Linked DNA regions of Homo sapiens: region 1 is linked to region 2. Evidence: fine-mapped expression QTL. A gene starts in region 2. The other region holds a variant in brackets. All regions are shown on one strand. Distances are from middle to middle. Region 1 holds the start of LINC02976 (long intergenic non-protein coding RNA 2976). Region 2 holds the start of GNMT (glycine N-methyltransferase).

Region 1 (4,379 bases), 22 kb after region 2:
GGGGCAGGAAACACATCCCTGCCCTGGGTACCAGCCCCTCCACCTCACCCCCAGCCATTTTCTATGCTCAGAACAAAGTCCAGGACAAGACCTGCATCTAGACTGTAATCTCACTGCTCACCAGCTCCTTTAACAGGGGGAACATCAGTCCTGGAGATGCAGAGGTGGAGGCTGGACCAAGACAGTATCATTTTCCCAGGACCTGGCGTCATCCTCAACAGCTTAAGGAGAGACAGATTCCATTCTGTTCCACTCTCTATGGCCTTGGCTGCCCTAACCTGGTAGAGGGGGAGAGGCTGGGACCAGGCTATGAGGGGGCCCCTCACTCCCAGTTCAGCCCCCAGAGCCGCTGCAATGGACGCAGGGAGGCTTCAGCAGTGTATCCCTCCTACCCACTGGGCCTAGCCTGGAAGTGTGAGGTAGAGTTGCAGTGTGGGTGCTCACGGGAGATCTGGTGCGGGCACAGCTCCCCCAGGACTTGCTGCCATTCTTTCCTTCCAATAAGCCACAGCTGCTTCCTATTCGCCTTTTAGGAATCTTGGTGGTGGTTAGGCCAGGCGCAGTGGCTCCCACCTGTAATCCCAACACTTTGGGAAGCCGAGGCAGATGGATCATGAGGTCAGGAGTTCAAAACTATCCTGGCCAAGATGGTGAAACCCCGTCTCTACTACAAATACAAAAAAATTAGCTGGGCGTGGTGGCAGGTGCCTGTAATCCCAGCTACTCGGGAGGCTAAGGCAGAGAATTGCTTGAACCCGGGAGGCAGACGATGCAGTGAGCCAAGATCACACCACTGCACTCCAGCCTGGGCAACAGAGTGAGATTCCGCCTCAAAAAAACAAAACAAAACAAAACAAAACAAAAAGAATCTTGGTGGTGGTGACAGGTTAAGGCCAAGAAACTAAACCAGTTCGATACAACTCACACTGTCAGTGCCAGGGGTTGGGGGAAGAGGCCCTGGCAGCTGTGGAGAGTGGAAGTACCATGGATTTGTAATCTGAACGCCAGTGTCTGCGTCCCAGCTATACCACTCCTTAACAGCAGGACCTTGACTCCAAGGTCACCTGACTCCAAGCATATCACTTGACTCTAGCCTGTTTTCTCCTCTACACAATGAGGTTAACAGCACACCTCACAAGAGTGTGGTAATAGTAAAAGTTAAAGCATACAATTTGAATACATACAATTGTCATCACTACTGTACCAATTGCCCCGATCCCTGCCTTCAGGACAAACTGGGAGGTGCCTGAGCTTCCCCACCCCTTCTCCCTAGAGGCCAGCCTCTCTGCTCCTCCCTTGGCCCTGAGGAACATGGTGTGACCAGATGGTGTTGGGAACCGGGTGTCCTCCCAACTGCACTCCAGGTACAACAGCTAGGAACCTCAGAGTGATCAAGTGTGGTCATCAGAAAACAAGGTTCAGGACCAACAGTCAAGGCCAGGTGGAAGTAGGAACAGGGGCGGGAGCTGGCCAGGTAAACACTGCATTTTACACAACAAATGGGAGGCCTTGGGAAGAGGAGCAGCAGGAGAGAGGGAGGGAGGGAACGGCAGCCAGGTGTCCAGGACACGAGGGAGCAGCGTAAGGTCAGTGCACTGCCCTGGGCCTCATCCTATGCCCATGCCTCCCCTCACCCCAAGACAACCCTGGGCCTTCCCAGCACTTGCTGCTCCCGAGAGTGGGTGGGTTTTAGCCTTCCCCTCCTCAGCCCCACGGGCTGGAAGGCGAGGGGCAGGAAAGAACAAGAGGCTCCAGGGCACCTCTGAGGGCTGCAGAGGACTCAGAAATCAGAACCAGAACATTTTTACTCTTTGGGCTCTGGGAAGGGCCAGGCAGAGTGCAAGGTGTCCACAGGAGGGGTAAGCAGAGAGGAGCTACAGGGGGCTGCAGTCCTAGTACCCTGTTGGGGAGGACTGAGGGATGGTGAGTTTGGTCTCCGGAGGGGGCTCCAGTCCTGGTGCCCAGTTCTGACACCTGCCCCTCCTGAGTTCACACTGGAGTCCTTGCAGTCCTGAAACCACAAGGCCTGCCTGAACCCTGGGTCAGGAGAGAAACACTTGGGGAGGGGAAAGGACGGCGTGGGCTACCCATGACGGCTCTGAGTTCTTCCTGGGGCTTGTGTCTTTCCTTGGCAGAAGAGGGCACAGCCAAGGCAAGGAGGGGCTGAAGGCTGCGGGGCCATCCCGGCCTGCCAGAGCCATGCCCCTGACTCCTCAGCTTCAAAATCAGGGGTCTCAGGACAGAGGATGCTGGGTGGGCTCAGAGCTCATCAGGGGGGCTGTGTGTGAGAGGGGATGCCTTCTGGATGCCCTCATCCTCCTCGGGGCTGGGGTCTCCCTCAAGGCCACCCAGCTCCTTCCTTTGTTTGCTGCTGCTACTCCTGCCGCCTGCTGCCTTGGCCCTG[C/A]TGCTCTTCTTCTTGGACTTCTTCCCTCCCAGGGCAGCTGTGTCTCCCTTCTTGCCGGACCACTGCTCTGCCAGGCAACCTAGGGTGTGGAGGAGAGAGACCCTCAACAGAAGTGCCTCAGGGCTGGGGTGCTGGGCAAGGAGCACTGAGCAGGGAGCCGTGGGAGTAGCAACTGGGACTGTGCTTGACATCAGCCTCCCTGCCTCCTGCCTCTCGCTGTGGCCACCAGGCCCCTCTGGGGGCATCTGACTTGTCTGCCCATCATTCTGCACCTGGTTTCAGTGACTCTTACTTCACCATGTCTTGCCAATCAAGCCTTTCAAGGGCAGAGATCCTACAATGCCCTCTGGTGCCCTCTGTTTCTCCTCCTACCCACCTCCCCCAAGGGAGAGCAAACAAATCATCCAGAGCCAGCCTGCCCTTGCTTCCCCAAACTCACTGGTGTCTTTTCCCTTCAGCACGTGGTTGGCGCAGAGGAATTCAGTCAGGTCTTCCTCCTGGTGGTTCCTGTACCAGTCCTCGATCACCTCCTCAAACTCTTCCACCAGCACATCACACTGTTAATCATAATACCTCATATTGGCAAAGCCCCAGCACCTGACTCGCTCCTAGAGGAGCTCAGCTAAGCCTCGCAACCCACTGCAAGGTAGGCAGTGGCAGCGGTTCACCTAAGGAAACTGAGGCCAGAGAGGTGAAATGACCTGACCAAAGCCACCCCGGCCTGGGTGGACTTCCTCAGAGCAGACCCAATCCCCACCAGCCCCTCACTGGGCACAGCAACCCTTCCAAGGGCTGAAGGGCCTGTACCTGCTTCTTGAGGTCAGCCACCTCTGCAGAAGTCTCGTTCCACAGCTCATAGGGGATGTCCATCACCACCTTGACCCCTTTGTGTACCAGGTTGTGTAATGTCTCAAAGGTCTCTGACATGCCCTGGAAGAAGCGACCAGATATGGCAGGCGGAGCTCCCTTCTCTCCCTCCCACCCTCGTCTCCCAGTGGTGGCTAAGAACCCAGCTATAAGACCAATGCTCAACGCCCTCTAAGGATCCTCATCCTTTTTTTTTTGAGAAGGAGTCTCACTCTGTCGCCCAGGTTGGAGCGTCTCAGCTCACTGCAACCTCTGCCTCCCAGGTTCAAGCGATTTTCCTGCTTCAGCCTCCCAAGCAGCTGGGACTACAAAGGCGTGCCACCATACCCGGCTAATTTTTGTAGAGTTGGGGTTTTGTCATGTTGGTCAGGCTGGTCTCGAACTCCTAGCATCAAGTTTTCCACTCACCTCAGCCTCCCAAAGTGCTGAGATTACAGGCGTGAGCCACCGCACCTGGCCTCATCCTTGACCTGACCTTCCTCTTCCCTCTTTTAGGCCTGCTTCCCACAACCCCTGCACATATACCCCCTGATCTGCCTCTGCACACCTCATCGCTTCAAAAAGACCTGCGGCTGCCCTCAGGCCCTTTGGCTTTATGCTTCTTTTCCAGGAAATAGGTTTGTCTTAGCTCTTTCCCCTCACTATGGCTGGAAACACTCCCATATCATCCAGACCTGCTGTTCCGTTCTTCCTGGGTTGTGTCTTTCCTCAGTGGGAAAAAGGCATAGCTGAGGCAGGTAGACCCTTTATTCTGTAAAAACTATCTCTGCTAGCTGCCTAGGTCTTATCCCCAGAGAAAACATACTATCCATTTCCTCTATTTTCCCAGAGATAACTCATACAAATACCAATATCTAAATATATCCTCCCCCCGCCTTTTTACACAAGCAGTGGTATAGCATACACACTATTTTGCACTTGCCCTTTTTACTTATACCTTGAAGGGCTGGGTGCAGTGGCTCATGCCTGTAATCCCAGCACTTTGAGAGGCCAAGGTGGGCTGATCACCTGAGGTCAGGAGTTCGAGACCCCCTGGCCAGCATGGTGAAACCCCGTTTCTACTAAAAAACACAAAAATTAGTCGGGCGTGGTGGTCGGTGCCTGTAAT
Region 2 (4,379 bases):
CATGTGGGCCTTGTTGTTCACTATCAGCACTGATGTTGTGACGTCCTTGGTCAAGTCACTCTGTAGGTGGTGGGGCAGCCGGCATTAGCCTCTGTAACCCACCTTGGGGCCACTGGACCCTCCCTCCACCCCACCCCCACCCCCACCCCCACCCCCACCCCAGAGGGCCCCACCTTATAGTAGATGTTCTTCCCTGGGGGTGCACAGCCTGTACTGAGGATGTGGTCGTAGTTGCGATGATCAATGACCAGTAGGCCCCCTGCCCGCACCATGCTCGCAATGTTTTTCAGCGCCAGCCGGTGCTCACTCTGGTCCCCTGAGCTCCAGGCACGGGCAGAAAGACTCCATCTGCTCAGGGCCCCCAGCACCAGTCTCCCTCCCATCTCTCCCCTCCCCAGGGGTGCCAGAGCCAAGGCAGAGAGTCTGCTTTGGCAGGAGAGCAGGTGCCAGATGTCTGTGGAAGGGGGCCTCAAGGCGGGGGCCATGCCCAAGGCCACACCCTCTCTTACCTTTGCAGTCTGGCAAGTGAGCGAAACTGTTTCCAAGGCAGATGACAGCATCAAAGCCACCCTCTGCTGACTGGGGCACATCTTTGTCCAGAGTCATCCAGTTGGCTTCTTCGATGACTAGGGGTCAGGAAGAGAAAGAGGAATCAGGGAGGCACGATGGTACCAGTAGCAGCCACCTCCACCAAGTGCAGTCCTGCCTGGGTTTCTTCTTAAGACACACAAGCTCCCCGTTCAGTTAGGGGGAGGAGAAAAGAGGGATCAAGGGAGAAGGAACCCTGGTTGGGAAGGAGGGCTCTGTGCTTATGGGTTTTTCTTTGAGGGGAGGGACAAGATGCCACAAACACAGTTAAAACCAGCTCTTCACACCCGGTGTCTCATTCTGGAGCTTAAGACTTGCTTTTCAGAGAAATGACAGTAATTTTTCTGTCTCCCCGAGGAAAACACAACACTCCACCCCCGCCCCCACTTAAAGGAGCCCCAGGCAGAATGAACAGTGTTCCTGGTGACTGGGCTGGGGGAGCCTGGCTAGACCTGCATACCCCACTTGTCGAAGGCGGGCTCGTGCCGCCGGTTCCAGCGCTCCTTAAGTGCATACTTCAGCATCTTGTCACTGGCATCCACACTCGTCACACTGAAGCCCTCTTCCACCAGCATAATGGAGTCCACCCTGAGTACGGCCAGCGAGGAGAGGCAGAGAGAGGCAGTTAGGGGAGCCTGGGAGGGCCAGGAGGAGACCCTGCACTGGACACTTTTGTCTCTACTTCTCAGAGTCCGTTCCTCTGCCTCCTCTCCCCAGGCCCTCTCCACTGACCTCACAAATCTGTTTCCTGTCACCACAAGGCAACTTTTTTTTAAAAGCACCTCTTCAGAGCCAGGCACTCTACAAATATGCATTAATTCTCATGGCAATCCTGAGAGGTAAATAGTGTCATTCCCATTTGAGAGACAGACAAGCTGAGGCTCCTTGAAGTTAAAATACGTGTGCACAAAAGGCAGTAGAACATGGTGGTTTAGAGCACAGGACAAAGCCGGGCGCGGTGGCTCATGCCTGTAATCCCAGCACTTTGGGAGGCCGAGGTGGGCAGATCACAAGGTCAGGAGATCGAGACCATCCTGGCTAACACGGCGAAACCCCGTCTCTACTAAAAATACAAAATATTAGCTGGGCGTGGTGGCAGGCGCCTGTAGTCCCAGCTACTCGGGAGGCTGAGGCAGGAGAATGGCATGAACTCAGGAGGCGGAGCTTGCAGTGAGCCGAGATGGAGCCACTGCACTCCAGCCTGGGCGACAGAGCACGACTTCATCTCAAAAAAAAAAAAAAAAAAAAAGAGAAAAATAGAGCACAGGACAGATCTTAACCAACCCGGGCCTGTTAGCTCCTTTTCACTGGATGATGTATGAGGGAATTTTACTTTGCTGAGGCCTTACTTCCCCAGTAGTAAATGAGAGAATATCACTGCTTAACTTCATGGGGCTTTGTGAGGGTTTGAAAAAGTGATGTATCAAAAGCTCCTGGCACTGGGCTTGGCAGGTGCAAATGTTGAGCAATGTTAACTGTTAACACTGCCCAAGGCCATCACAGGAGGAATATTTGCAATCTGTCCGTGGCTCTGGCTCCAAAGCCTCAGGGACGCTCACTTTTTCTGCCCACACCCTCACTCACACTCAGTCTCCCTTCTCCGGGGCCTCTCCCTGCGAACCGCTACCTGGACCCCTAGCCTCACGGGGCACTCGCAGTGCCTGTTCTGCCGGGCAGGTACCTGCTCCTGGCCCTGGTGTCCCACCCGTTCCAGGATTGGCAAAGGCCGCCCTGACGTGCCCGGCCCTGTGGTTCTGCGGCCGCGCAGTACAGGCTGAGACAGACCCCGATCTCATGCAACGCCCCCGGCCCCGGCCTGGGCTCACCCAGTGCCACAGGCTACGTCGAGCACCCGCTGGCAGCCGTGCTGGCGCAGCAGCCCAAGCAGCCATGCCTTGTACTCGGCGGTGCGGCTGCGGGTGTCTCCGATATACAGCTGCCACACGCGCGCCGCCTCCCCGTCCGCGTACTGGTCCGGGAGCCCTTCGGCCGCCACCCCCAGGGAGCGGGTCCGGTACACGCTGTCCACCATCCTGCGCCGCGCCTGGCTCCGCAGCCACCCGCTCCGCACTTAAAGCATAAGCACTGCTGGCAGCCGACAGCCCCACCTGGCCAATAGCAGGTGAGCGCGCGGACACGCCCCTGCCGGGCTTTGGGCCGGGCGCCCGAGTCTGTCCAGCTGCAGGGAGGGCGCTGCCTCGCAATCCTGGGCTAGGTCCTTTTAGCCAGCCTGCGGACCCAGCCCTCTGTGCAATCCCACGGCGGGAGAGGACCCTCGGAGCCCTCTGCCCACTTAACCCGGGTCTCGAGGAGAAGGCGAGAGGGGTCAGGAGAGGCGGGAGCAATGAGATTGCCACTCCATCCCCTGAGATCCGCAGAGCTGAGCGCCAGGCGGGCAGGACTGGACCGTTCCCAGCGAAGGAAGGCATCAGCATATCTAAACAAAGATTGTGCCACCGAAGTGTGTAGGTATAGTCAGCCGGTGCAGGGAAGACAGGGGGAGTCTCTGGAGGTAAAGCTGGTCTGTCCACCGAATCCAGGGGCGGAGCCCGGCTGGAATACGGTAACACGGTAACACGGTGAAACCTGGCTAACACGTCTCTACTAAAAATAAAGAAAGATTAGCTGGGACATGGTGACACGCGCCTGTAGTCCTAGCTACTCCGGAGGCTGAGCCAGGAGAATCGCTTGAACCCGGGAAGGCGGAAGTTGCAGTGAGCCGAGTGCACCACTGCACTCCAGCCTGGGCAACAGAGCAAGACTCCGTCTCAAAAAACAAAAAGCAAAAAACAAACAAAACCCTCTGCTTTCACAGGAAGCAGGAGAATAGGGTCTAGAGACAGGGAACATAAGGCCAATTCACACTTCAGTTATAACGGGAAATATCCTCTCCATAGGGCGTATGCCCGCCATTAATAACTTTGTAACTGTAACTTTACTTCATCCTCTTCATTTACATAGGGTGTACCCCAAGTAGAGGGTATTTAAACTCACAAAATGTAACAGGGCCTTTGAGCCCCTATGCTCATGCTCGCTCCCACACTGTGGAGTGTACTTTCATTTTCAATAAAATCCTTCATTCCTTTCTTGCTTTGTTTGTGCATTTTGTCCAATTGTTTGTTCAAGATGCCAAGAACCTGGACATCCTCTACCGTTAACATATTTTGGCGAGCCAGCCAGCAGAAAGAGGTAAGCCCAAAGTTTGGGATTCATTTTTCTCCCTTTCCTTTCTGCTCAATTACAGGGCCGCTCTCGCGCTTCTCTCTCTCTCTCTCTCTCTCTCTCTCTCTCTGCCTCTCTCCTCCTTCCTTTCCAACTTGGGACCCTTGGTGGGCAGCGCCTAAACATGGAAGCAACTGCAGGGTTTTTTTTTGTTTTTGTTTTTGTTTTGAGACACAGTCTCGCTCTGTCGCCAGGCTGGAGTGCCGTGGTGCAATCTCAGCTCACTGCAATCTCCGCCTCCCAGATTCAAGCAATTCTCCTGCCTCAGCCTCCTGAGTAGCTGGTATTACAGGCGCTCACCACCACGCCCGGCTAATTTTTGTATTTTTAGAAGAGGCAGGGTTTCACCATGTTGGTCAGGCTGGTCTCAAACTCCTGACCTCGTGATCCACTGGCGTCGGCCTCCCAAAGTGCTGGGATTATAGGTGTGAGCCACAGCGCCCGGTCTGTGCTACTCTTCTAAGCAGGGGGCCTGGTTAACGGGTGATGCTCTCCTTTGGTACTGTTTGGCCCCAGTGCTCCTTGGAGCCTGGGGAGGTTTAGCCTTTAAAAATCAAACTGTCCAGCAC

The links. PIP is the estimated chance that this variant, and not a neighbour inherited with it, causes the effect. A credible set is the group of variants that fine-mapping cannot tell apart.
Region 1: its variant is the best candidate, but not a certain one, in a credible set for the expression of GNMT in blood mononuclear cells (TOPMed, PIP 0.59).

The regions. Positions count from the first base shown.
Region 1 is chr6:42,936,672-42,941,050 of GRCh38, reverse strand. CNPY3 (canopy FGF signaling regulator 3) reads right to left here. Exons shown (of 6, transcript NM_006586.5): 4 at 3,212-3,334; 5 at 2,844-2,961; 6 at 1,757-2,483. The coding sequence ends at 2,260. The region is part of intron 1 of CNPY3-GNMT (CNPY3-GNMT readthrough); the gene reads right to left. It overlaps LINC02976 (long intergenic non-protein coding RNA 2976), which reads right to left and starts at 558. Exons shown (of 5, transcript NR_186646.1): 1 at 445-558; 2 at 122-278. RefSeq lists an enhancer at 1,945-2,447. The variant C/A (reference allele first, on the strand shown) is at 2,405.
Region 2 is chr6:42,959,009-42,963,387 of GRCh38, reverse strand. GNMT (glycine N-methyltransferase) reads right to left here and starts at 2,634. Exons shown (of 6, transcript NM_018960.6): 1 at 2,415-2,634; 2 at 1,049-1,176; 3 at 510-626; 4 at 174-316; 5 at 1-60. The coding sequence starts at 2,620. CNPY3-GNMT (CNPY3-GNMT readthrough) reads right to left here. Exons shown (of 5, transcript NR_134892.2): 2 at 1,049-1,176; 3 at 510-626; 4 at 1-60. RefSeq lists enhancers at 2,186-2,235, 2,414-2,915.